Linked DNA regions of Homo sapiens: regions 1 and 2 are each linked to region 3. Evidence: fine-mapped expression QTL. A gene starts in region 3. Each other region holds a variant in brackets. All regions are shown on one strand. Distances are from middle to middle.

Region 1 (8,179 bases), 22 kb after region 3:
TCCAATCTACCCTGAACCCCAGCCACTGCCTCCTAGGCCAGGTTCCTTGATGTGCACATCTCTGATTGGCCAGACCTGGGGCTTCAGCCCCTTGCCCAAGATGAGATCAGCCCCATTCTTACCATATGGAATGAGAGCGGGGAAGGTATGGTTCTCTAGTAGAAAAGTGGGGTGTTGTAACATGAAAAGGGGGAATGAATTCTAGCCAGGAAAAAAATGCCAATGGATTCGCTTATTCTCCTGCCTCAGCCTCCCAGGTAGCTGGAATTACAGGCATGTGCCACCACGCCTGGCTAATAATTTTTGTATTTTTTTAGTAGAGATGGGGTTTCACCATGTTGGCCAGGCTGGTCTTGAACCCCTGACCTTGTGATCTGCCCGCCTCGGCCTCTGAAAGTGCTGGGATTACAGGTGTGTGCCACTGCTCCCAGCCTGATATCCCTTTTTCACTGCTTTCCCCACTCCAAAACCACTCTTTGCCCTAATGTTTCTCCCACATGGCAACTATTTCCATCTCATATGGCAAGGGGCAGGGCAAAGTGGTGCAAAAACACTGGGCAGGGAGTCCTTAGAAAGGACCCACTTCCCTCTTTGGGTCTCAGTTCCCCACTCTGAGATTCCCATGATCTCTGAGACTCTTGGTGACTCTGATAGCATCTGCCAGTCTAATACCTTTATACATTGACCTAGGGAGTCTGGGTTGAGATTTGTGGACTTTTCCCTGATAGCAGAATGTGTGGCTCATTCTCCCATGAAAAGCATCACAGGGAATAGATGAAAAAAGTGTTTTCAAGTCTATGGTTACTGCTTCCCTGCCTCTGGGTTTGAGAACTAGACAAATCTGGATTTCTATCTAAAGCTGCCACATCACTTAGTAGTTCTATGACCCTGCCAACTTGCTTCAGCTTTCTGAGTCTCAGTTTTCTCCACTGTAAGATAGGTTTAATAATATCTTCTCCAGAGGGTTGTTGGAAGGAGCAAATAAAAAGATGCATGCAAAGCACTTTGCCTATTACCTGGGACACAGAAAGTTCCAAAAATAGCAGCTGTTATTAGCACCTGTCTTAATCCATTTTCTGTTGCTTATAACAGAATCCCTGAACCTGGGTAATTTATAAAGGAAAGGAATTTATTTCTTAGAGTTATGGAGGCTGTTAAGTCCAAGGTGGAGGAGCTGCATCTGATGAGGACCTTTCTGCTGGTGGGGACTCTCTGCAGAGTCTCAATATGGTACAGGGCATCACATGATGAGGGGGCTGAGCAAGCCAGCTCAGGTATCTCTTCCTTTTCTTATGAAGCCACCAGTTCCATTTCCTGATAACCCATTACTCCATCAATCCATTAATCCATGAATGAATTAATCCATTCATTAGGGCAGAGGCCTCATGACCCAATCACCTGTCAAAGGTCCCACCTCTCAATACTGCCACACTGGGGACTAACCTTAACACGAGTTTTGGAGGGGACAAACATTCAAACCATGGCAGCATCTGAGCCCTGAGTGGATTCCTGCTGCAGCTGTGGCCACATGGTCAGGGAGCATTTCTGGAGTCCTCTCTGCATAGTAAGTGTGGGCCTGAGCCCTGTGTGCAGCTGCTGTGGGGCTGGTTTGGTGGGCGGTGTCTGCGGCTATTTTGGAGACACCAGTTCCTATTGTCTAGACAGAGTTCCCTAAGGCCATCATCTCCCCAGCATAGAGGCTGAGCCCAGAAGTCTGAGTCATAGAAAGCACTTGAAAGTCCCTGGGAAAGCCATCTGGGCCAGGAGCACTTAGAATATTTTTCCCTACATGTTTCTTTTATTGAAATATTATATTCATCTTTTATTGCTGCATAACAACTCAAAACTTAGTAGCTTAAAACAACAAACATTGATTATGTCACCCAGTTTCTGAAGGTCAGGAATTAGGAGGCAGCTTAGCCATGTGGTCTGGCTCAGGGTCTCCCATGAGTTTGTGGTCAAGCAGACAGCTAGGGCTGCCAACATCTGAAGGCTTTAACTGGAGCTGAAGAATCCACTTGCAAGCTCACTTACATAGCTGTTGACAGGAGGCTTTAGTTTCTTGCCCCTCGGATTTTTTCATAGGGATGCCCAACACATGGGTTCTCCAGAATAAGTGACCTGAGGGAAAGGGAGATTGAGACCAAGACAGAACTGCAGTGTCTTTTTTTTTTTTGAAATGGAGTTTCACTCTTGTCTCCCAGGTTAGAGTGCAATGGTGCGATCTCAGCTTATGGCAACCTCCACCTCCCAGGTTCAAGCGATTCTCCTGCCTCAGCCTCCCGAGTAGCTGGGATTACAGGCACCTACCACCATACCTGGCTAATTTTTTTGTATGTTTAGTAGAGATGGGGTTTTGCCATGTTGGCCAGGCTAGTCTTGAACTCCTGACCTCAGGTGATCCACACGCCTCAGACTCCCAAAGTGCTGGGATTACAGGTGTGAGCCACCACGCCCGCCCTGCAGTGTCTTTTATAACTAATCTCAGAAGTGACACCCCATTACTTCTGCCAAATAGACCAACCTGATACAGCGTGGGAGGGGATAATACAAGGGCATGCACACCAGTAGGCAGGAGTCTTTGGGGGCTCTTTGAGGTTTTTTGTTTCTTTGTTTTGAGACAGAGTCTCGCTTTGTCACCCAGCCTAGAGTGCACTGGTGTGATCTCGGCTCACTGCAACCTTCCAGGTTCAAGCGATTCTCCTGCCTCAGCCTCCTGAGTAGCTGGGACTACAGGCGCACACCATCATGCCCAGCTAACTTTTTTGTATTTTTGGTAGAGATAGGGTTTCACCATGTTGGCCAGGCTGGTCTTAAACTCCCGACCTCAAGTGATCCGCGCACCTTGGCCTCCCAAAGTGCTGGGATTACAGGTGTGAACCACCATGCCTGCCTGGGGAATCTTTTGAATGCCACCTGCCATGGACATAATTCACATATGATGAAATTCACAGATCTTAGGCGTACAGTTTTATCAGTTTTAACAACGGAATATGTTTTTTTTTCGAGATGAAGTCTTGCTTGCTCTGTCGCCAGGCTGGAGTGCAGTGGCTTGATCTTGGTTCACTATAACCTCCCCTTCCCGGGTTCAAGCAATTTTCCTGCCTCAGCCTCCTGAGTAGCTGGGATTACAGGAGTGCACCACCGCATCCGGCTAAATTTTGTATTCTTAGTAGAGACAGGGTTTCACCATGTTGGCCAGGCTGGTTTCGAACTCTTGACCTCGTGATCCGCCCACCTCAGCCTCCCAAAGTGCTGGAATTACAGGCGTGAGCCACCACGCCCAGCCCAACAATCAAATATTCTAATATAACCCATATTCCTATCAAGGTTTTGAACATTTTCATTATGTCAGAACATTCTCTCATCCCCTTCCCAGTCAATTCCCCCTCACTCCAAGTAACTACTGACCTTATTTCCATCTCTATATAATCCACAGTTTTGCCTGGTCTAGAATGTGATAACATTGGAATCATAGAGTATGTACTCTTTTGTGTCCAGCTTCTTTTGTTCTGCATAATGATTTGAGATTCATCTATGTTGTTGTGTATCAATGGTTCATTTCTTTTGATTGTTAAGTTAGGCACTCCCACCTTTGTGTGGTTCTCACCCTTATTAAATGTGCCCTGTAACATGACATCTGGCAGTTAACTCTTCATTTCTACTTCTACTAGACTGTGACCTACTAGACTGTGACCAACTCAAGGACAGAGGTTGTATGTATCTCATTTATTTCTGGGTCCCCAACATGAGCTCAGTGCCTGGAAGGCAGTAGACCTGGGAACTGTCACATCCTGGAATTTGGGAGTTGGCTTGATGGGAAGTAGGGGACTGCAGGGAGTTGAGGGGCACTGACAGGACACCTGATCACTGGGGCTGGAAATCACTCCAAGACCCACCATTCACAGGCCCCATGAGCTCAGAGGGCTCTCCAACCAGAAGTTCCAGGACAGAGAGGGGGTTCCAGCCCAATAAACACAGAGTGGGCAGTGAGTCCACAGCTGTTACTCTAGGGCTCGGTCTTCCGGCCACTGGAAAACTCACCAACTGGGGACGGGCCTGAAAAGAAAGTAAAAATCGATTTTCTCTCACTTGTTTCTCTTCCCCTTTCACCCAGAGGGTGCACCTGACAACTAGACCCAACCGTCTGGCAGAGTTTGAAGCCCCTGCCCCCTCCAGCCCCACCCTCTCATGCTGCTCACACTGGCCCCACCCTCAGCAGGGCCATGAGGATATGAGGGTTGAGGCTCCAACACCTGCAGGCTTTCTGGAATCCCAGAAGCCCTAAAGCATAGACTTAGGGGTCAGAGCTGGCACTGAGTTCCTGCTTTACCACCCTCTGGTTGTGTGGCCTTGGCCAGATTACTTCCTCCTCTGTAAAACAGGGCCATAATTCCAGCTAGCAGGGTAGGTAAAGGGCTACTTACCTGACGGAAGTAGAGGGCTAAGTGCTGTGGATGGCAGAGAAAGGATGGGGTGACTTGGTGGTGGGAGGAGCCTGTGAGACCTTCC[G/A]TGTTTTTCCAGAAAGGTAGAATTAGCACCAGAGGGCCAGGCGCGGTGGCTCATACCTGTAATCCCAGCACTTTGGGAGGCCAAGGCGGGCGGATCACCTGAGGTCAGGAGTTCAAGACCACTCTGACCAACATGGCAAAGCCCTGTCTCTACTAAAAATACAAAAATTATCTGGGCATGGTGGTGCATGCCTGCAATCCCAGCTACCTGGGAGACTGAGGCAGGAGAATCGCTAGAACCCGGGAGGTGGGGGCTGCAGTGAGCCAAGATCACACCACCACTGCACTCCAGCCTGGATGACAGAGCAAGACTCCATCTCAAAAAAAAAAAAAGGCCGGGCACAGTGGCTCACGCCTGTAATCCCAGCACTTTGGGAGGCCGAGGCGGGCGGATCACGAGGTCAGGAGATCGAGACCATCCTGGCTAACACGGTGAAACCCTGTCTCTACTAAAAATATTTTTAAAAAATTAGCCGGGCCTGGTGGCAGGCACCTGTAGTCCTAGCTACTCGGGAGGCTGAGGCAGGAGAATGGCGTGAACCCGGGAGGCGGAGCTTGCAGTGAGCCGAGATCGCACCACTGCACTCCAGGCTGGGCGACACAGCAAGACTCCGTCTCAAAAAAAAAAAAAAAAAAAAAAAAAAAGAATTAGCGCCAGAGTCCACAAATGAGAACAAAAGCTGAGAAATGCTCCACCTTCCAAGCTCAGAAGCTCCCCTGAAGGGTTGATAGGAAGTGCTATTTCAGCAGAACTAGCACTATGTAGTGCTGTTCTATGCAGGAGCTATGCAGGGCTTGTGAAACGAAGCCATCTGTCCCTGTCTCCCTCAGGGTAGGGCAGGCAATTCCCCCAAGACAGGTTTTGCAATATGACCTTTTTACTTTGTCAAGGGGACCAGTCAAATTCTCCTCCTGGCCTTGGTGACTGCTACTAACCCAGAGAATGCAGCAGAAGTTACAATGCACCATTTCTCAGGCTAGGCCAAAAGAAACCTTGTAACTTCTTCCTTGGTCTCTTAGAAAGCTCAGTTTACAGGCACTCATTTTTGGTACCCAGGTGCTATGCTGTGAGAAGCCAAGCCACATGGGGAGGCCACGTTTAGGTTCTCCAGGTGACAGTCCCAGCTCAGGCACTGGTCATGTGAGTGAAGCAACCTCCAGGTGATTCCAGCCCCCAGCCATTTGAGTCTTCCCAGCTAAGGTCCCAGACATCATGGCGCAGTGTATTAGTTATGCACTGTTGCATGGCAAGTTACCCCCAGAATGTAACAGCTTAAAACAATAAATATTTATCATCTCACACAGTTTCTGATAGTCAGGAATCCAAGAGTAGCATATCTGGGTGATTCTGATTCGAGGTCTCTCATGAAATTGCAGTTAAGCTGTCGGCAGGGCTGCAGTCATCTACTTTCTCTGGGGCCAGAGGATCCATTTCCAAGCTCATTCATGTGGCCATTGGCAGGAAGCCTCAGTTCCTCTCCAGGTGGGCCTCTCCATAGAGGCAGCTGGCCTCACAACACGGCACCTGGCTTCCCCAAGGGAGTGATCCAAGAGACAGAGAGGCAGAAGCCACAATATCTTCTTTTTTTTTTTTTTCTGAGACAGAGTCTTGCACTGTCACCCAGGCTAGAGTGCAGAGTGGCACAATCACAGATCACTACAGCCTCTACCTCCTGTGTTCAAGCAATCCTCCTGCCTCAGCCTCCCAACTAGCTGCGACTACAGGTGTGAGTCATTGCACCGGCTAATTTTTTTTTTTTTTTGAGACGGAGTCTCGTTCTGCACCGGCTAATTTTTAAAAATTTTTTTGTAGATACAGGGTCTCCCTATGTTGCCCAGACTGGTCTCAAACTCCTGGCTTTTCTCAATCAAGTAGAAGCGATCCTTCTACCTTGGCCTCCCCAAGTGCTGGGATTATAAGTGTAAGATACCGCGCCCAGCCTCACACTATCTTCCACAACCTAGCTTCAAAAGCGACATACTATCACTTCTGCTATGTTCTATTGGTCACACAGACCAACTGATATGGTGTGGCAGGGGACTACACAAGGGGGTGAATACCAGGGGGGAGGGGACTTTGAGAGCCATCTTGGAGGCCACCTACCGTAAGCAGAGACCAGTCATCCCCACTGTGCCTTGTGAAACTCCTGACCCACAGATTCCATGACCATGATGAAATGGTGATTGTGTTATACCTCGAAGTTGAGGCTGATCCGTTAGTTACACAAGCTAACTGGAACAGAGCTAACTAGGACAGTAGCTAACTGGAACAGAGCCAAAAGAATCATTCATCAGGTGTGCGGTGCCACCAGAGGGCATCTGACTTCTCCTTCCCTGATGATGTTTGCTGAGCAACTACACTTGCCAACCTGTCCTGGTGCTACGAAATAGGGGAAAGGGCATGGAGAGGGAAGGCCAAGGATGTGATCAGGTGGCAAGGAGTGGCAGAAAGATGGATTCTGAGATTTTTTCTGAGACAGGCCTGTGTCCACAGGCCCCAGGCTGGGGCTGCAGAGGGTAGATGTGATGGGGCAGCAGGCCTGCGGGGGGCAAAGAGGTGCACTGTGAAGGGTGAGCCAGAGGCCACCAGCAGAGGAGAGCAACTAGGCACCAAGCCCTTTTGCAGCGTGCTACTCCATCACCCCGTGTCTACAGATAAGGAGCTGAGCAGCTGTGATGTCTGAGAGGACAGGAACACAGACACCTCGCGAGAAGCGAAGAAGAGGTCAGCCAAGGGCCAGCAGGGGACATCTAAGGAAACAAGTCCTTTTTTTCCTTCTTGTTTCTCCCCACCAGAGGGCAGACAAGAGAGAGCAGACCCATCTCCCCTCCATGCCATAGGCCTGCCTGCTGGACTGTGAGTCCCAAAGGAGACTGACCTTCGAAAATGGAAAGACCAAGTTAATGGCTGAAACAAGAGACTGCATTAATAACTAAAAACGACTGAAAAGTTTTGGAACCAGCTGGAGATGTCATCAAGGGGGCCAAATGTCCGTCAGGAAAGGGGATGACAGATTACAGTTGGTAGAAATTATTTTTAAAAATAACTGTTAGGCCAGGTGCTGTGGTTTATGCCTGTAATCCCAACACTTTGGGAGGCTGAGGTGGGTGGATTACCTGAGGTCAGGAGTTCAAGACCAGCCTGGCCAACATGGCAAAACCCCATCTCTACTAAAAATACAAAAATTAGCTGGGTGTGGTGGCATGCACCTGTAATCCAGCTACTCAGGAGGCTGAGGCAGGAGAATCGCTTGAAACCAGGAGGCGGAGGTTGCAGTGAGCCGAGATCCCACCACTGCACTCCAGCCTGGTGACAGAGCAAGACTCCGTCTCAAAAAAAAAGAAAAAGAAAAATACAAAAATCAGCTAGAGGTGGTGGCACCCACCTGTAGTATAGTCCCAGCTACTTGGAGAGGTCGAGGCTGAAGTGAGCTGTGATCGTGCCACTGCCCTCTAGCCTGGTCAATAGGGTAAGACCCTGTCTCAAAAAAAAAAAATTTTTTTTTGTTTGACGTTTACTTTAAGATTTTGATTTTTCTCAATCAAACTTGTCCCCAGAGTTATTGTTGTTATTGTCCTTGGCTGCTCCTCTTTTATCTCATTCATTCGCTCACACATAAGCACTTATTGTATGCCAGGCACTGTATTTGGCACTGGCCCTGGGATGC
Region 2 (8,179 bases), 90 kb after region 3:
TTTAGTAGAGACGGGGTTTCACCTTGTTGGTCAGGCTGGTCTTGAACTCCTGACCTTGTGATCCGCCCACCTTGGCCTCCCAAAGGGCTGGGATTACAGGCGTGAGCCACGGCACCCAGCCAATAATGGGAATTCTAAAGCAGGAAAGTGGTCCTTGTGCTAGGAATTATTATTTCCATTTTTTACAGATTTCAAAACAGACTCAGAAGAAGCAGCAAATTGCCCAAGGCCTCTGTACCAGTCAGGGAAACAGAGCCAATAGGATCTATATATATCACGCTAGGCCAGCAAGTCCCAAGATCTGCAGAGTGAGTCGGCAAGCTGGAGACCCAGGAGAGTGGTTTAGTTCCAGTCCAAGTCCAAAGTTATCTGGGTATCCCATGGTGCAGTCGGACTGACACCATCAAATTGTAAAATGGCTAAAACTAACCATCACAGCTCACAGCTAAAATGTGGCAGAGCTGGGGCTCAAACCCTGTTCTATCTGACTAGAAAACCCTTTGCTGCAGAAGCCACTGGGCAGAGACCCAGGCCTCTTCTCTCGTAGCCTGGACACCAGGGCTGTGCCAGCTAGAGAGAAGCAGCCAGTCACCAGCCAGGTTAGGCTATGGGCCTGTCAGATAACCCAGCAGGGTCTGAGGAAGGAGCTAACCGGAGGCCTCTGTTTTAGGTGGAACTCCACAAAAGGCTTTACACCTTCTTGGGAGGACAGGTGAGGGCAAGGAGATTGGGGCTTCAAAGGAGCTGCCCTGCAGAAGCCCTTTTCACTTTTCCTGTTCAAAACACCTTAGTGCTCATCACCCCATTTGAGCTCAGCAACTCTGAGAATGGGGAGGGGGAAAATACCCATTGGACAGATGGAGAAACCAAGATGCGGAGAGGTGAAGATGAACTGACTTGCCCAAGGTCACAGCTGAGAAGCAGAATCACAGGGCCCAGGACCCTGGAAGCTCACCTGCCTCCTGTTTTACAGAGAAGGAAGGAGAGGCCTAAAGAGGAATGTCCCAGCCAGGCACAGTGGCTCATGCCTGTAATCCCAGCACTTTGGGAGGTTGAGGTGGGCAGATCGCTTGAGTCCAGGAGTTCAAGACCAGTCTGGGCAATAGGGCGAAACTCCATCTCTACAAAAACAAAAATTAGCTGGACGTGGTGGCGCATGCGTGTGGTCCCAGCTACTCAGGAGGCACAGGTTGGAGGCTCGCTTGAGCCCAGGAGATGGAGGCTGTAGTGAGCCATGATCATGCCACTGTACTCCAGCCTGGATGACAGAGCGAGACCTTGTCTCAAACAAATAACAACCACAAAAAAAGAAATGTCCCCATTCCGCTGATGAGGAAGTGGAAACACAGAAGGTTGGGTCTCCTTCAAGCTGCTCAGTGAAAAGTGACGAAGCCCTCAACTGTCCTGGGCGTTTTCTTCATTCCTCCACAGCACTTGGCCTTTCCACTGTCCAACAGTCCAAACTTTACAAAATACTTGGCATGGCCACAGTATCTTGGGTTCAAGGTCATGCCACGGCCAAACCAGATACAACTTCACTCTCACCCAGTACCGAGGTCCAAAGAGGGGAAAGGACATCCCATGTCACCAGCAAATCAGGAGCTAACTCCAAAGGCTATTTTCCTGGCCCATCCCTTGGAGTGGCGGAATAGAGGCTTGGCTGGCAGGACCAGCCTCCAGATGACCCTAGTAATTGCTTGGGGGGAGGGAGGTTCTGAGGCCCAGAAATGGCAAGTGGTCTGAGGTTTCATGTTAAAACCTGTTTCTGCTCTAGCCCAGCAGTCGGTGAACACCAGGTACTTTCTGATGGTGAATGAGGTTGGTGCAGGGCTGCATTATCTGCTCCACATCCCACCATGAGAACATACCAGGAGTGGGGGCTTTCCACCCAGATCCCCAAGAAGTTGCTCCATCATTCTGTCTCACCACAACCATTTCCTTCTCTAAAAACTCCCTTCCCTGCAAGCCCTGAGACCAGCCAGGCTCTCACCACAGAGTATATGCAGACTTGCTTCTTCAGCTGTGGCCACACCAGGCTCAGGAATGTCCCAGGAGGCCCTCCCATCTCTGTTGCTGCCACAAGCTGAGGGCGTGTCAGGGGCTGGCCTCAGGAAAGGTTGGGCCTGAAGCTACTGCCTCTCTGAGTAAGAGTAATGCTCCTAACCCCTGCAAAGCAGTTTACACCCAACAGCTCACTTAATCCTCACAGCTATCCTGTGGGGATGGAAATAGTCATTATCAATGGCCATTTTACAGGAAAGGAAACTGAAGAGAGGGAAGTAACTTAGGGTAACACAGCTTTTCAGCCTGACTCTGAGCTCTCTGCTTCTCTTAAGGGGCTGCTTAGTGGACTCAAAAGAGGTATCGAGTATCAGGTTTTGGTTTTTGTTCTGCTATCAGAAAATTTTTTGAAGATTGCCTGGGAGAGAGGTAGGACTTCTAATGATGCCAAAGCAGGAAGAGTCCCCCAGGATGGTGAAACTGAGGCAGGGGGGAGGAGACATGTCTTAGCTAGGGTTGCACAGCAGGTGAACTGGCTGGCGCTGGACCCGGCGGCAGGAAGTACCCGCTAAGCTTGGACCTGGATTCATTGGCCAGCCAGCCAGGCTGCCGCCCCTTATCCCTAAGGCCTCTGTTTCTCTGCTATGTAGGCCAGGCCCTCCTGTAGGTCACGCCTCAGTCATCAGTGATGGGGTGACAGAAACTGTGGGAGCCAGAGTGCAGCTGCAGTAGGAAACCAGCTTGGTTGCATCAGTACTCGGGTTCTAGCCCCACCAAGTTAGGCAAGGGCACCCCCCTACCTGGGCTACAAATCTCCCACCACTCCAGCCCCACCGTGTCCCCCTCCCTTTACCCCTGACCCGTGATGGCTCTGCCCCTAGCGACACTCTCGCTATGAGGGGCAGAGCCTCTCATCCCAGCCTGTGCCAGGCAGGAGCCCTGCTCCCATACGTGGCAGGGCCCACCTTGGGAGGTGGAGGATTCTCTCCCTAGGAGAAAGAGGATTCTGCTGGTGGATGACACCTGCTACTACTGACTCATTCATGCATTCAGTCTCTTCTAAGTTTGTTCATTCCATCAACACATTCTTTTTGTTTGTTTTTTGAGATGGAGTCTGGGAGGTGGAGGATTCTATCCCTAGGGGAAAGAGGATTCCGCTGGTGGATACCTGCTATTACTGACTCATTCATGCATTCGTCCATTCATGCATTCAATCTCTTCTAAGTTTATTCATTCCATCAACATGTTATTTTTGTTTGTTTGTTTTTTGAGATGCAGTCTCACTCTGTTGCCCAGGCTGGAGTGCAGTGGCATGATCTCGGCTCACTGCAGCCTCCACCTCCTGGGTTCAAGCAATTCTCCTGCCTCAGCCTCCCGAGTAGCTGGGATTAC[T/C]GACACGCACCACCATGCCCAGCTAATTAATTTTTTTTTTTTTTTGTATTTTTAGTAGAGACAGGGTTTCGCTATGTTGGCCAGGCTGGTCTCAAATACCTGACCTCAGGTGATCCACCCACTTCAGCCTCCTAAAGTGCTGGGATTACAGGCATGAGTCACAACACCCGGCCTCCATCACAAATTCTTATCCAACCCCTTCTAACCTGACAGCCACACTGGGTCATGCCTTCTGCTGGACCCTGGGGACACAGAAAAGAATAAAGTGGACATGGCCCTGCCCTGGAGGAGCTTATAGGGTAGAGGGGCACTGTGTCGTGTCTGATGCTATAACACAAAGATAGACATGGGACAGCAGCAAGACAGAGAGGGAATGTGATGTGTGAGAGCAGCAAGGTGGGGAAAGATACAAAGGGGGACAGCATCTGCCTTGGAGGAAGAAGGGAGCAGTAGTTGGCCAGATGAAGAGTTAACGGTAACAAGCCCAATACAAACTCCGAAGGCATTTACTGTGTGCCAGAAGCTTTATTCTCATTAATTTCTTTTTTTTTTTTTTTTTTTTGAGACGGAATCTCACTCTGTTGTCCAGGCTGGAATGCAGTGGCACAATCTCCGCTCATTGCAAGCTCCGCCTCCCAGGTTCACGCCGTTCTCCTGCCTCAGCCTCCCGAGTAGCTGGGACTATAGGCGCCCACCACCACGCCCGGCTAATTTTTTTGTATTTTTAATAGAGATGGGGTTTCACTGTGTTAGCCAGGATGGTCTCAATCTCCTGACCTCATGATCTGCCCACCTTGGCCTCCCAGAGTGCTGGGATTACAGACGTGAGCCACCACGCCTGGCCTTTTTTTTTTTTTTTTTTTTGAGATGAACTCTCACTCTGTCACCCAGGCTAGAGTGCAGTGGCACGACCTCCACTCAATGCATCCTCTGCCTCCCAAGTTCAAGTGATTCTCCTGCCTCAGCCTCCCGAGTAGCTGGGATTACAGGCATGCGCCACCACTCCCAGCTAATTTTTGTATTTTTAGTAGAGATGGGGTTTCACCATGTTGGCCAGGCTGGTCTCGAACTCCTGACCTCAGCTGATCTGCTCACCTCAGCCTCCCAAAGTGCTGGGATTACAGGCGTGAGCCACCTCACCTGGCCCTCAATTTCCATCTTTACAACAAACCTGGAAAGCAGATATTATCAGCCCCCTTTTACAGATGAGGAAATTGAGGCTTCAGGAGGTTAAATGAATTTCCAAAGTGGTATAACTCATAAGTACAAAAGCCAGAATTTGAACCAGGTTTGTCTATCTCCAAATTCAGTGCTAAATTTAGACCTAGAGTTAAGTTAAAAAATACAGGATGGTAACTGCAAAGGACTGGAGGCTATATCCAAAAGAATAGCAATGGTAGTCTCGGGGGGGATGAGTTTACATTGTTATGCATTGATGTACATTTGAATTATGAGACAAGAGATGTTCATATATGCTGGAATTCACAATTATTCCTGCAGTACATTAGTTTCATTTTCTCTGATTCTTTTCTTTACCCCAGAAATGGAAATTGCTTAAGTGGGTTTTTTTTTTTTCTTGAATACAAGAATATAGGATCCTTTTTTTGAAAATCAGATGTCAATTTTAGGATGACCATTACCAGTGAGGTTTTTTTCCCTTTGTGTTTTCCTAACTTACTATATCAAGCACGTCTTTCATAATTTGAAAGTAATGTTATTTTTAAGAAATGAATTGCACACATCAAGGACTGGAGTGACCCAGCCGACGCAAGTTCCTGTAGTTCCTGAGAAAAAGGCTTGGAGGTTTTGCGTGACCTCAGACCAGAGTGAGTCAGCAGGGTGAAGTGGCTGCCAAAACACCAGGCAAGCAAGTAGAAACATGGTCCCAGATTTGAGAAGGAAACCTCCCCTGCTCCTCAGGGCTGATCAAGCTTATCTGAGGCTCAGACATACAGGAGAGCTACCCTGAAGCTAAAGAGAGACCTAAGCACAGCTGAGGGACCTTGGAGAAGAGGCCTTTAGGGGAAGGTCTTTACAGTGCATATGCAGTTGGCATGCCTGTATGAACAGGCTTGACCAGGCGGTTTACCCTACCCAGCCAAATAGTGAGCTACCTATTACTGCAAGTATGCAAGGAAAGATGGGAAGAGTACCTTATATTAAAGGGCAGCTGTGTGGGTGATAGATTGCATTAGCAGACAACCCAGATATTAAGACATACAGTGTTTGTAGGACATGAGGGGGAAAAGATACCTACCTAACTCAACATCTCAGAGGGAGTATACTAGAACTGTCAATAGTAAGCCAATTGGGTACTAGGCTTATTACATATATATCAGTGGTTTTCAAACTTGAACTACACCAGAATTCCTGGAGGGTGTGTTGTAACACAGATTGCTGGGCCCCATGCCCAGGGTTTCTGATTCAGTATGTCAGAAGTGGGGCTACTTCACAGGTGATGTTAATGCAGCTGGTCTGGAGACCACACTTTGATATGCATGATCTTATTTATTTGTCACTGCCACCTTATAATGGAGGTTCTGTTATCCCCATTTTCCAAGTTAAAAAAGCAAAACCAAACAAAAACATCATCTGAGGCTTCTCAGAGTTAAAATTACTATTTATAACTAGTAAGTGGCAGAACCAAGATCTTTGAATCCAGATCTTTTTTTTTTAACAGGCTTAATTCATTTTATTTTTTCTTGTGTAAAAACTCCGTTGACCGGGGCAGTGGCTCACACCTGTAATCTTAGCACTTTGGGAGGCCGAGGCATACGGATCACTTGAGCCCGAGTCCCAGACCAGCCTGGGCAACATGGCAAAACCCTGTCTCTACAAAAAACACACACAAAAAATTAGCTGGGGGTGGTGGTGCATGCCTGTAGTCCCAGCTACTGGGTTAGGGAGTGGCTAAGGCAGGAGGATTGCTTGAGCCCTGGAGGTTAAGGCTGCAGTGAGCTGTGGCCATGCCACTGCACTCCAGCCTGGGCAACCCTGTCTCAAAAAACAAAAACAAAACAAAACTCTATATTGTATACATAGCTGGAGCCTGGGTCCTCCGCACAGAGACTCTGGTCTGGGTCTTGATGAGATGGTCAGTGAACTCCTGATAGGGAAACTTGATGAATATGGTCTCTCTCCAGAGGTTGAGGGTCAGATAGCTATAATTCTTGGAGATGGCACCAAAGGTGGCCTTGGCGAAGTTGCCCAGGTGGCAGTGCAGCTTTGGGTTATGCTATGCCCATGATTTATCAGCTTTTTTTTTTTTTTTTTTTTTTTAGATGGAGTCTCTGTTGCCCAGGCTGGAGTGCAGTGGCGCCATCTTGGCTCACTGCAACCTCCACCTCCTGGGTTCAAGTGATTCTCCTGCCTCAGCCTCCCGGATAACTGGGACTACAGGCGCGTGCCACCACACCCGGCTAATTTGTTGTATTTTTAGTAGAGACGGGGTTTCACTATGTTGGCCAGGCTGGTCTCAAACTCCTGACCTTGTGATCCACCCACCTCGGCCTCCCAAAGTGCTGGGATTACAGGCGTGAGCCACCGTGTCCAGCTGATTTCTCAGCTCTTACAGCTCCAGGGTACTTAGGTTGTGGGCTCTCTGCTGGGGTAGTACTTTTTCTTTCTGTTATGACGCAATACACCTGGCTGAGGTGTAGCACTGGTCTGTACTAGCCATCAGCAGCATCTTGGGCACAGGGGCCAAGGTGATGCCATTGCCTCAGTGGGGCAGGGATAAGGCACACCAGCACAGAGCCACAGCAGCCTGTCACCTTGCAAGAGATGGTGTGGGGGCTAACTGATCTTATTCCCCCAGTGGCTTCTCTGCACAGGGACAATGGAGAGCCTGACCAGGTGATGTCCCCTCAGATGGCCGTGGCTACCTCCTCGGAGCACTTAACACCCAGACCAACGTGGCCACTGTAGTCCCCAATGGCAACACACACCTTGAACCTGGTATGCTGGTCAGCGCAGGTCTGCTTTTGCACGGGCGTGGTCTTCAAAACCTCATCCTTGAGAGATGCCCCCAGGAAAAAGTCAATGATCTCAGACTCCTCGATGGTCAAGGAGAAGGGCTAGATTTCCTCCAGGGACTTGATCTTCATGTCCTTGACCAGGTAGCCCAACTTGGTGACAGGCATCCATTCCTCATCTTCATCCTTGCCTCTGCAAGCTCCATGGCCCAGGCCCTGACCCCAACCACTATCCAGGCCCCAATGCCACTGCCAAAGCCTCCGTGGAAACCACTATGACCTCCCATTCCAGGGCCCCAAGGGCCTCTGAGTCCTCTCTCTGCACCAGTCATCTGCACTTTGGTGTTTTCTCAGGGAAGAAGTTGAACCAAGATCTTTCTGACTCTGAAGTTCATGTTTAACTAAAATGGTTACTTCCTTTTCTCAATTAATAAACAGAAACAAAGATTCTAGGCCAGGCACAGTGGCTCATGCCTGTAATCCCAGCACTTTGGGAGGCCAAGGTGGGCGGATCACCTGAAGTCAGGAGTTTGAGACCAGCCTGGTCAACACGGTGAAACCCCGTCTCTATTAAAAATATAAAAATTAGCTGGGCATGGTGATGGGCGCCTGTAATCCCAGCTACTCGGGAGGCTGAGGCAGGAGAATTGCTTGAACCTGGGAAGCAGAGGTTGCAGTGAGCCAAGATCGTGCCATTGCACTCCAGCCTGGGCAACAGAGCGAGACTCCGTCTCAAAAAATAAAATAAAATAAAGCTCTTAAATTACCTGTACTGCACAATAATTCTTTTGTATGCTCAATTATTTTGTATG
Region 3 (8,179 bases):
CTTCAAGGCTGACAAATTCCATGCTCGTTTCTCCCTCCCTCATCCCTTGAGACCCCTCCTGAGTGGGTGGTCTTCCCAGAGGGCAAGGACCAACTACAGGTACCTCTTGCTCCCCAGAGCCCACCTGGACTAGCCTGGCCATGTGTGTGTTCAGTGGGCATGGAGGGTCAGTGCACCGTGCGGGCAGGGCTCACCTTGTTGGCACAGCTAAAGCCCAGCCCCAGCTGGGCCAGAACCTTCAGCACACCTGGGCTGCTGTTGCACTTGACAGCATAAAAGGGCCGGACTCGTGGCAGGCACTTCAGAAAGCAAAAGTGCTTCCTCACTATGGCACCCAGGTCAGCCACGAAGAAGGCAGCTACCTCGTCCTGAATGACAAGAAGTGGATGAATGTGAGACCCCATCCAGCTCGCACCCTGTGCATGCCATCCGTGATCCTTCCAAGTACCTGACCCAGGTTCAGTACTGGCCACAGAGCTACCCTGCTGCTAAGTTTTCTGGGCCTCCCCAAGCCTACAGGGCAGAAGGCAAACTCCTCAGCCTGGCATTCAAGGCTCTGATCTAGCCCCAATCCCTCCCCTCAATGCGGCTAAAACTCCAGCTGTAGGCTGGATCATTTTCCCACCTTCAAACCTTTGTTCCCACCATGTCCTGCAGAATACCCTCCCCACTCCTGTGTCTGGCAAAATCCTTAAAGTTTCACTCAAATGCCACCTTCCCCAAACCAATAAGGCAACTCTGCTTTTAAATGCTCCCACTGCATTTGCATATGCTTCCAAGGTATCAGAACTGCATATGCATCTGTCCATTCTAGAAAAGGGTAAACTCCCTAAAGGCAGAAGCTATGACCTACAGCTCACTGCCTTCCAAACACAGGTGCTCAATGAAGCCTTAAGCTAGTCCCACTGACACTGCAACCTATCCCTATGGACAACTGTTCATTGTAGATGTGCTAAAGGCCAAACATGTATGAGGCTGTGGGTGAGACCACATTACTTAAATGTGGAAGGGACCCTTCCAGAGTTGCTTCCCTGGGACTCAGTTTCCCTTTCATGCAACACTTTTTTACTCATGCCCACTTGGTGCCAAACGTTATGCTAAGGGACAGAGATGACCAAACAGTACTGTTGTTCTGAAGGAGCTTGGGTCTGGAAGAAAAGGAACCCCTTAAGTACTTACAAGTCCATTCAGCAGATGTTAGATGGCAGTTTCTACAAGGTGCAATGCAGGGGCATGGAGAAAGAAAATAGAAAATCTGCCTGGGGCGATCAGGAAAGGCAACACTGATGAGAAGCAAGGAATGACTAGAAAGGGGTAAAGAGGGGAGAGGCTGAGAGAAGGATGCTGCAGGCAGAAGGAACAGCCTGGGCAAAGGCATGGTAATAGCATCATTGGGCACACAGCATCATTGGGAAATGCAAATTGAGTCATTCAGCTCCGAAGGAGCATAATATATACTGTGGGGAAAGCTGGGAATGGGGCTATGGAGGCAGGGAAGCTCTGACTTGATCCTGTAGGCAGTGGAGAATTGCCAAATTCAGATTTTGAACAGGACTATGATACCTTTGGAGGGGGTGGCATGAGACCGGGAGATCAGGGGGCCTTTGGAGAGAGGAAGACTGAACTAGAAAGCGAGGTTCCACATAAGCACACTGGAGGCTTATTTAAGGAGGCAGAATTCACAGAGCTTGGTAATGCCTAGATGTGGGCGGTGAGGGAGAGGGGGCAGCAGGAAAGGAATCCCCCGTTTCTGACCTTGGAGGGCTGGGTAAAAAGGCAACATAGGAGGGGCAGGTTTGGGGGCAAGGACAAAGAATTGGGGATAAATTGAGCCCCTCTCTTGCAAATAGCAAGGATTGCGTACCAAATAAGCGAAAGGATAAGATGAGGGCCCTAGGGACCCTTCCTGAGGAGGCAGCTGATCTGTACAGGGGACCGGGGACCCACCCCCATTCCCAGCCCCTCACCGTGGTGGCCTGTGAGGCCCCCAGAGTGAGTTCCTTCAGCAGGTCTCGGGTACTGAAGCCCTCCTCCACCATCACAAAGTCCGATTCACTCAGGTAGCCAGCCATGCCTTGCAGGAGGAGCTGACGGGCTGGATGGAGCCGCTGCTGCAGCCGCCGCCTTAGAAAGTATGCAACACACTGCGGGGCGAGGGGAGATGAAGGGAACCGCTGGGGGGCCGGCTCTGCTGCCCCACTCGCCTCCCGAGGCCAGGGATCCCAATCCCGTCACAACCCGCCCCCAGCACAAGCCCGGGGTTCACTGGGCAAGGGTGGAGAAAGTCAAGAATCCCGGATTTCAGACGGAGACAAGGCACCGTATGCCCAAATGTCACTGCCTCTCCGAGTCAGTTGCTCCCTCTGTAAAATGGATGAATTGTTTTGGAGAGCCTTCCCAGTTCTGAAATTCTGGATTTCAGGAAAGAGTGAGAGAGAGATGGAACAGAAAATCTGAGAAACTTGGGTGGGGAAGTTTCCAGGGCGCCCCCAGTCTTGACCACGCCCACCTAGAGGGTAGCCGGTGGCCACATCAAGGCGTCTCAGCCTAAGAGCAAGAGCTTAAGTTCGAGTCCGCTCTCTACTGCTTGACCTCGGGTACCCTCTGACCCTTTCGGAGCCGCAGTTTCCCCAATTGTAAATGGGGGCTGGACTGATCCTGAGGTGCTAGAATTCTAGGCGTGCCTGGGGACGCCACGCGGTGGGTGGGGGCCGCAAGCTCCTGGGAGAGAACGGAAGGCCGAGGTTTTTTCTGTCCGAGTGACTCCTACAGAGTGCAGGGCTGAGGTCCCCCCAACCCCCAGGGCCCCTTACCAAACTCCGTCCTCCTTCGCGGGGGCCAGAGCCAGGCGCGCTGCTAGGGGGGGTCGCCGGTGACCTCGAAACTTGTGCAACACCCCGAGGAGGAGTGGCAGTTGCGGAGCCGAGGCCTCTGCTGACAGGAGGCAGAAGGGGCAGGGAGGCAGGTCAGCACCAGGGCGGAGGGCGTCCGCTCCCCGAGGCTCCCCAGGCCACTTTCCGCACTCGCCTTAAAACGCATTTACACGGCTTCGGCCCATAGGTCTCCCCAGGGAGTGAATCGGATCCTCGGCGCCTCCGCTCTCTCGCTTCCCCGGGCTCGGGTCCCGCGGCCTGCGCCCCGCCAGCCCAGCAGCCACAGACCCCCACGCCCCGCCTTCCGCCCGCCGCTGGCTTATATAACCCCGCCCAGGCCCCGCCCATAGTGCCGAGGCCCTACCTCCGCTTGGCCGTAGCCCTGGCAACCGGGTGCCGCCATCCCATTGGTCGATTCCGACATAAAGCATTCAGCTCTGCTCGCCCTTACTGTAGTCTTCTCCCCCGGAGGCCTGGCGGTGGCTACCTCACGCTGGAAGTCAGAACTACAGGGCCGCCGCCACGCAGGTGAGACACTTAGACCCTGCATCTTAGGTCTTAGAGAGTGGGCAGGACCAGGAAGCCTTTTCTGCCTCTGCCTCAACTTACTTCGTGGTCCAGCTCTTGTCTGCGTCAGGAACTGCTCACTCATCTCTCGAAACCCGGTTCCAATGACATGTCCTTGTATTACTTTTGTAATAAAATTCTTTTTATTTAATTGCCTCTTCCAGGCATCTTCCCCGACTCCAACTCAAAACGCATCTAAAATGTCTTCAGAGAACCTTTTTGTGACTTTCCCAGTTCAGGGCAATCCCTCCCTTTATCCCATCCTGTGAACCCGGCAAACTCTTACTCATCTCTCAATAGAAATGTGTCTCCTTCTCCAAGAAGCTTTCCCGGACTTCCTCAACTCAAAGCATTTCTTCTATACCGAAAGCTGCTGCTCACCCATCAAAGTCCTGTATAATGTCACCTCTGTTGAACCTTCCATGACTTGCCTGGCCCCAAGGAACACAGCATTTAGTCTGTCTGGACCCCTCACTCATTTGGTTCTTGTTACCCATAGCGTGAGATTCCTGTTGTTATTTTACACTTCTTGTTTGGTTACACTTTGCATCTAGTTTGTGATTTCCCAAGGGCAAGGACTGAATACCCTGCTCAAGAGCCTGGTGCCTGGCATAGACAAGAATGCTGAGGAAGATTCAATAGCTGTGTTACTCAAAAGCTGATATAAAAGTTCATCTGGAAAAGTAAGTGTACAAGAACAGTCAAGACACTCTTTTTGCCCAGGCTGGAGTGCAATGGCACGATCTCAGCTCACTGCAACCTCTGCCTCCTGGGTTCAAGCGATTCTCCTGCCTCAGCCTCCCAAGTAACTGGGATTATAGGCGCATGCCACCACGCACAGCTAATTTTGTATTTTCAGTAGAGATGGGGTTTCACCATATTGGCCAGGGTGGTCTTGAACTCCTGACCTCCAGTAATCTACCCGCCCCGGCCTCCCAAAGTGCTGGGATTATAGGCGTGAGCCACCGCGCCCGGCCAAAACTACAGTCTTTAAAACAGTATGGTGCTGGAGCAGGAAGAGACAGTGGTAAAACAGAACAGGGTCTACAACAGTCCCATATACATTGGAGATTGGTACACAATGGAGGCAGCATTTCAAATCAATGAAGCCAAAGGGCTTTTGGTCTACCATATGTCTTCATGTCCCCTGCTAGGCTGTGGGCTTTTTTTTTTTTTTTTCTCTTTTGAGACAAGATCTGGCTCTGTCACCCAGGCTGGAGTGCAGTGACATGACCTCAGCTCACTGCAACCTCCACCTCCCAGGCTCAAGTGATCCTCCAACCTCGGCCTCCCAAGTAGCTGGGACTACAAGTGCATGCTACCATACCTTGCTGATTTTTGTATTTTTTGTAGAGACAGGGTTTCGCCCTGTTGCCCAGGCTAGTCTCAAACTCCTGAGCTCTAGCAATCTGCCTGCCTCAGCCTCCCAAAGTGCTGGGATTACAGGCGTGAGCCACCATGCCCAGTGGGCTGTAGACTTTTTTTTAAATCAGAGGCACTTCTTGTCCCGCCTTAGTATCTCCCTAGGACACTGCACAACCTAGTTAGAACATGCTCAGTACACAAATGGTGTGGGGCAGGGACCAGAAGCAGGAGAGCCATTTTCTGCTCCCTACCCAGCTGGGACATATAATTGCTGGGTGTCCTTGGCTGAGTCACCCTAACTGGATCTGGGTCACTTCTGCCTGGCTTGATTTCCCCCTGTGAACTGAGAGGTTTCAGACTGATTTCTCTGGGCCCTTCTGCCTGGAACCATCTTGTTTTCTATGCATAGGAGTAGTATTTCAGGAGGCAGCTTTATAGGACAGTCATTTGCAGGACCTTTCTTTGAGATTAATAGTCATTTGCAACATAGTATGAGAACAAGTATCTACCAATCAGGAAGGGTAGATTAGGACGGCCATGGCAGAAACCCTAAAAGATTATACTGAGAGGGCCAGGCGCGGTGGCTCACGCCTGTAATCCTAGCTGAGATGGGAGGATCACGAGGTCAGGAGATCGAGACCATCCTGGCTAACATGGTGAAACCCCATCTCTACTAAAAATACAAAAAAAAATTAGCCAGGTGCGGTGGCGGGAGCCTGTAGTCCCAGCTACTCGGGAGGCTGGGGCAGGAGAATGGCGTGAACCCGGGAGGCGGAGCTTGCGGTGAGCCGAGATCACGCCACCGCACTCCAGCCTGGGTGACAGAGCAAGACTCTGTCTCAAAAAAAAAAAAAAAATTAGACTGAGAGGAGAGGAGCACCCGAATAACTTTGGCTCTACTTTTAGTTAAATCATTCTCTGAGCTGTCTGCATTTGGATGTCATGGTCTGGGTCTGCCCTACCAGCTTTTTTCATCACCTAGTAGGCACATAATAGGTACATTCAATATGTTTACTGAATGAATCAATAGAGGTAAGAAGAAACGAGCCAGAATCCAGTCTGTCCATTTGGAATCTATCAAGAGTAAGTAATCAGAGCAGAAAAATCTGCACCCTGGACTGAGTACAGATAGGCTGTGGCTTTTTCTTTTTTCCCTGCTTGTTATGTGATGTCATTGAAACTCCATGACAACCCTATGTCACAGGAGCCACATTTGTTCTCATTTTACAGATGAGGAATATAAAGCTCAGAAAAGTTCAATAACTTGCCCAGGATCACACAGCAAGTAAAGGTGAAGACTAGATTTAAATACAAGCCAATTCTGACCTTTAACCTTTATGCTTGACTGCCAATCAGTGGCTGAGAATTCTGGCCCCAGCTAAACAAAAGTTACACACTCATCCTGCCAGCATCCAACCCAAAAGCTGGTAGCTTCTCTTCTGCTTGTCTCTCATGCTACTGCTGTTGTAGCATCTATGATTGCTGTGCTGAGCCCTCAAGAACATGGAGCAGAAGCAGGATAAAAATCTTCTGATCTCTAGTCAGAATCATGTCAGCCAAGTCAATCTATTCTTCATAAACCAAGAGTAATCATAGTCACAAACGTTGCAATAATAAAAATGCCTTATTAGTACATAGAACTGGAGAGTTTGAAAAATACTTTCCTGTTCATCATTTTATTCAGGCTTCCCAAAATTCCACCAGTATTAATTTCTTAGGGATGCCATAACAAAGTACCAAAAATGAGTGGCTTAAAATAACAGAAATGTATTGTCTCCAGTTATGGAGGCTAGGAGTCTGGAGTCAAGGAGTTGGCAGGGCCATGTTCTCTCTGATGGCTCTAGGAGAGAATCTTTCCTTGCTTCTTCTAGCCTATGGTGTTAGCTGGCAATCCTTGGCGTTCCTTGGCTCGTAATGCATCACTCCAGTCACATGGCCGTCTTCTCCCTGTGTGTCTTCATATGATCTTCCCTCTATATGTGTTTGTCTCTGGGTCCAAATTTCCCCTTTTAATAAGGATGCTTATCATATGGGATTAGGGTCCATCCTAATGACCCCATTTAAATTTGATTACCTCTGCAAAGTCCTGTTTCCAAATAAGGTCACATTCTGTGGCACTGGAGGTTAGGACTTAAAAATAACATTTTACAAGGACACAATTCAACCCATAACACCACCAAACACTTCTTTTTTCATAATTGACCAAAATATAGATCCACGATGACACCTAGTTGCGAGGGAGGTGGGAAGACGTAGTCTTTATTTGGGTACATTGCTGTTCCTCCTACCCCCCAATAAAATCAAAATACTAATGAAGACAAGGAGAGAAGATATTTTGTGGTAACTAGTAGGGAAGATTATTTCTCCCTTTTAAAGATCAGTATACCACCGGGTGTGGCAGCTCATGCCTGTAATCCCAGCACTTTGGGAGGCTGAGGCAGGTGAATCACTTGAGGTCAGGAGTTCAAGACCAGCCTGGCCAACATAGTGAAACCCCATCTCTACTAAAAATACAAAAAATTAGCCGGGCATGGTGGTGAGCACCTGTAATCCCAGGTACTGGGGCAGCTGAGGTGGGAGAATCAATTGAACCCAGGAGGCAGATGTTGCAGTGAGCCAAGATTGCACCACTGCACTCCAGTCTGGGCAATAGAGCAAGACTCCATCTCTAAAAAAATAAAAAATAAAGATCAGTATATCAGTTGCTATGGTTTGAATGTGTCTCTCAAAAAGCTTGGGTTGTAATTTAATACCCAATGCAACAGTGTTGGGAGGTGGGGCCTAATGGGAAGTGTTTAAGTCATGAGGGCTCCACCACCATAAATGGATTAATGCCCATTATAAAAGGGCTCAAGGCTGTGAGTTCAACCTCTTGCTCTCTCTTGCCCTCTCCACCACCTTCCACCATGAAATTATGCAGCAAGAAGGCCTCCACTAGATGCAGCTCCTCAGTCTTGGACTTCCCAGCCTCCAGAGCCATGAGCCAATTTTCTGTTCATTATAACTTACACAGACTCAGGTATTCTGTTGCAGCAGCACAAAATGGACTAAGACACCAGTTCAGAATGATTATGGAATTTATTCCATAGGGAGAAGTAGACAGAGAAGTAAACAAACATTATTTGAGCACCTGTTGTGTGGCAGACATCATACTGAATGTTTACAAACACATGATTGCATTTAATCTTTAGATAACCCTGTAAGACAGGCATTATTAGCCCCATTTTACAGGTGAGAAAATTGGGATTAAATCCTTTGTCTAAGGTTACCCAGCTAGTGAGTATCAGAACGGAAACTTCACTCTGGTCTGTCTGACTATGCCAGTGAGATGGGCTCTGAGAATAAGGCATGAAGCTCAGAACAAAGAATGCCAA

Alleles and levels. Positions count from the first base shown, and alleles are read on the strand shown. Sizes are in standard deviations (SD) of each study's normalised expression. Not every link is listed here.
For the expression in transverse colon of the gene that starts at base 3,169 in region 3, allele A in region 1 goes with a lower level than allele G (small effect, 0.33 SD a copy in GTEx).

What was found.
Region 1: its variant is fine-mapped to the expression of AZIN2 in transverse colon (GTEx, PIP 0.96).
Region 2: its variant is fine-mapped to the expression of AZIN2 in whole blood (TOPMed, PIP above 0.99).

What each region holds. Positions count from the first base shown.
Region 1 is chr1:33,054,442-33,062,620 of GRCh38, reverse strand. LOC124903969 (a long non-coding RNA gene) reads right to left here and starts at 6,117. Exons shown (of 2, transcript XR_007065697.1): 1 at 5,813-6,117; 2 at 3,715-4,059. RefSeq lists an enhancer at 7,199-7,493. The variant G/A (reference allele first, on the strand shown) is at 4,513.
Region 2 is chr1:32,986,481-32,994,659 of GRCh38, reverse strand. It overlaps the pseudogene LOC100419257. Among named protein-coding and RNA genes, the nearest start is that of RNF19B, 26 kb to the right of the region's middle. RefSeq lists enhancers at 1,694-1,743, 1,754-2,173, 1,931-2,447, 5,212-5,471. The variant T/C (reference allele first, on the strand shown) is at 3,394.
Region 3 is chr1:33,076,143-33,084,321 of GRCh38, reverse strand. It overlaps AZIN2 (antizyme inhibitor 2), which reads right to left and starts at 3,169. Exons shown (of 12, transcript NM_052998.4): 1 at 3,028-3,169; 2 at 2,814-2,934; 3 at 2,510-2,721; 4 at 1,968-2,144; 5 at 195-368. The coding sequence starts at 2,072. LOC105378635 (a long non-coding RNA gene) reads left to right here and starts at 3,326. Exons shown (of 3, transcript XR_947163.2): 1 at 3,326-3,401; 2 at 3,995-4,123; 3 at 6,036-6,438. RefSeq lists an enhancer at 1-226 and a silencer at 2,948-3,207.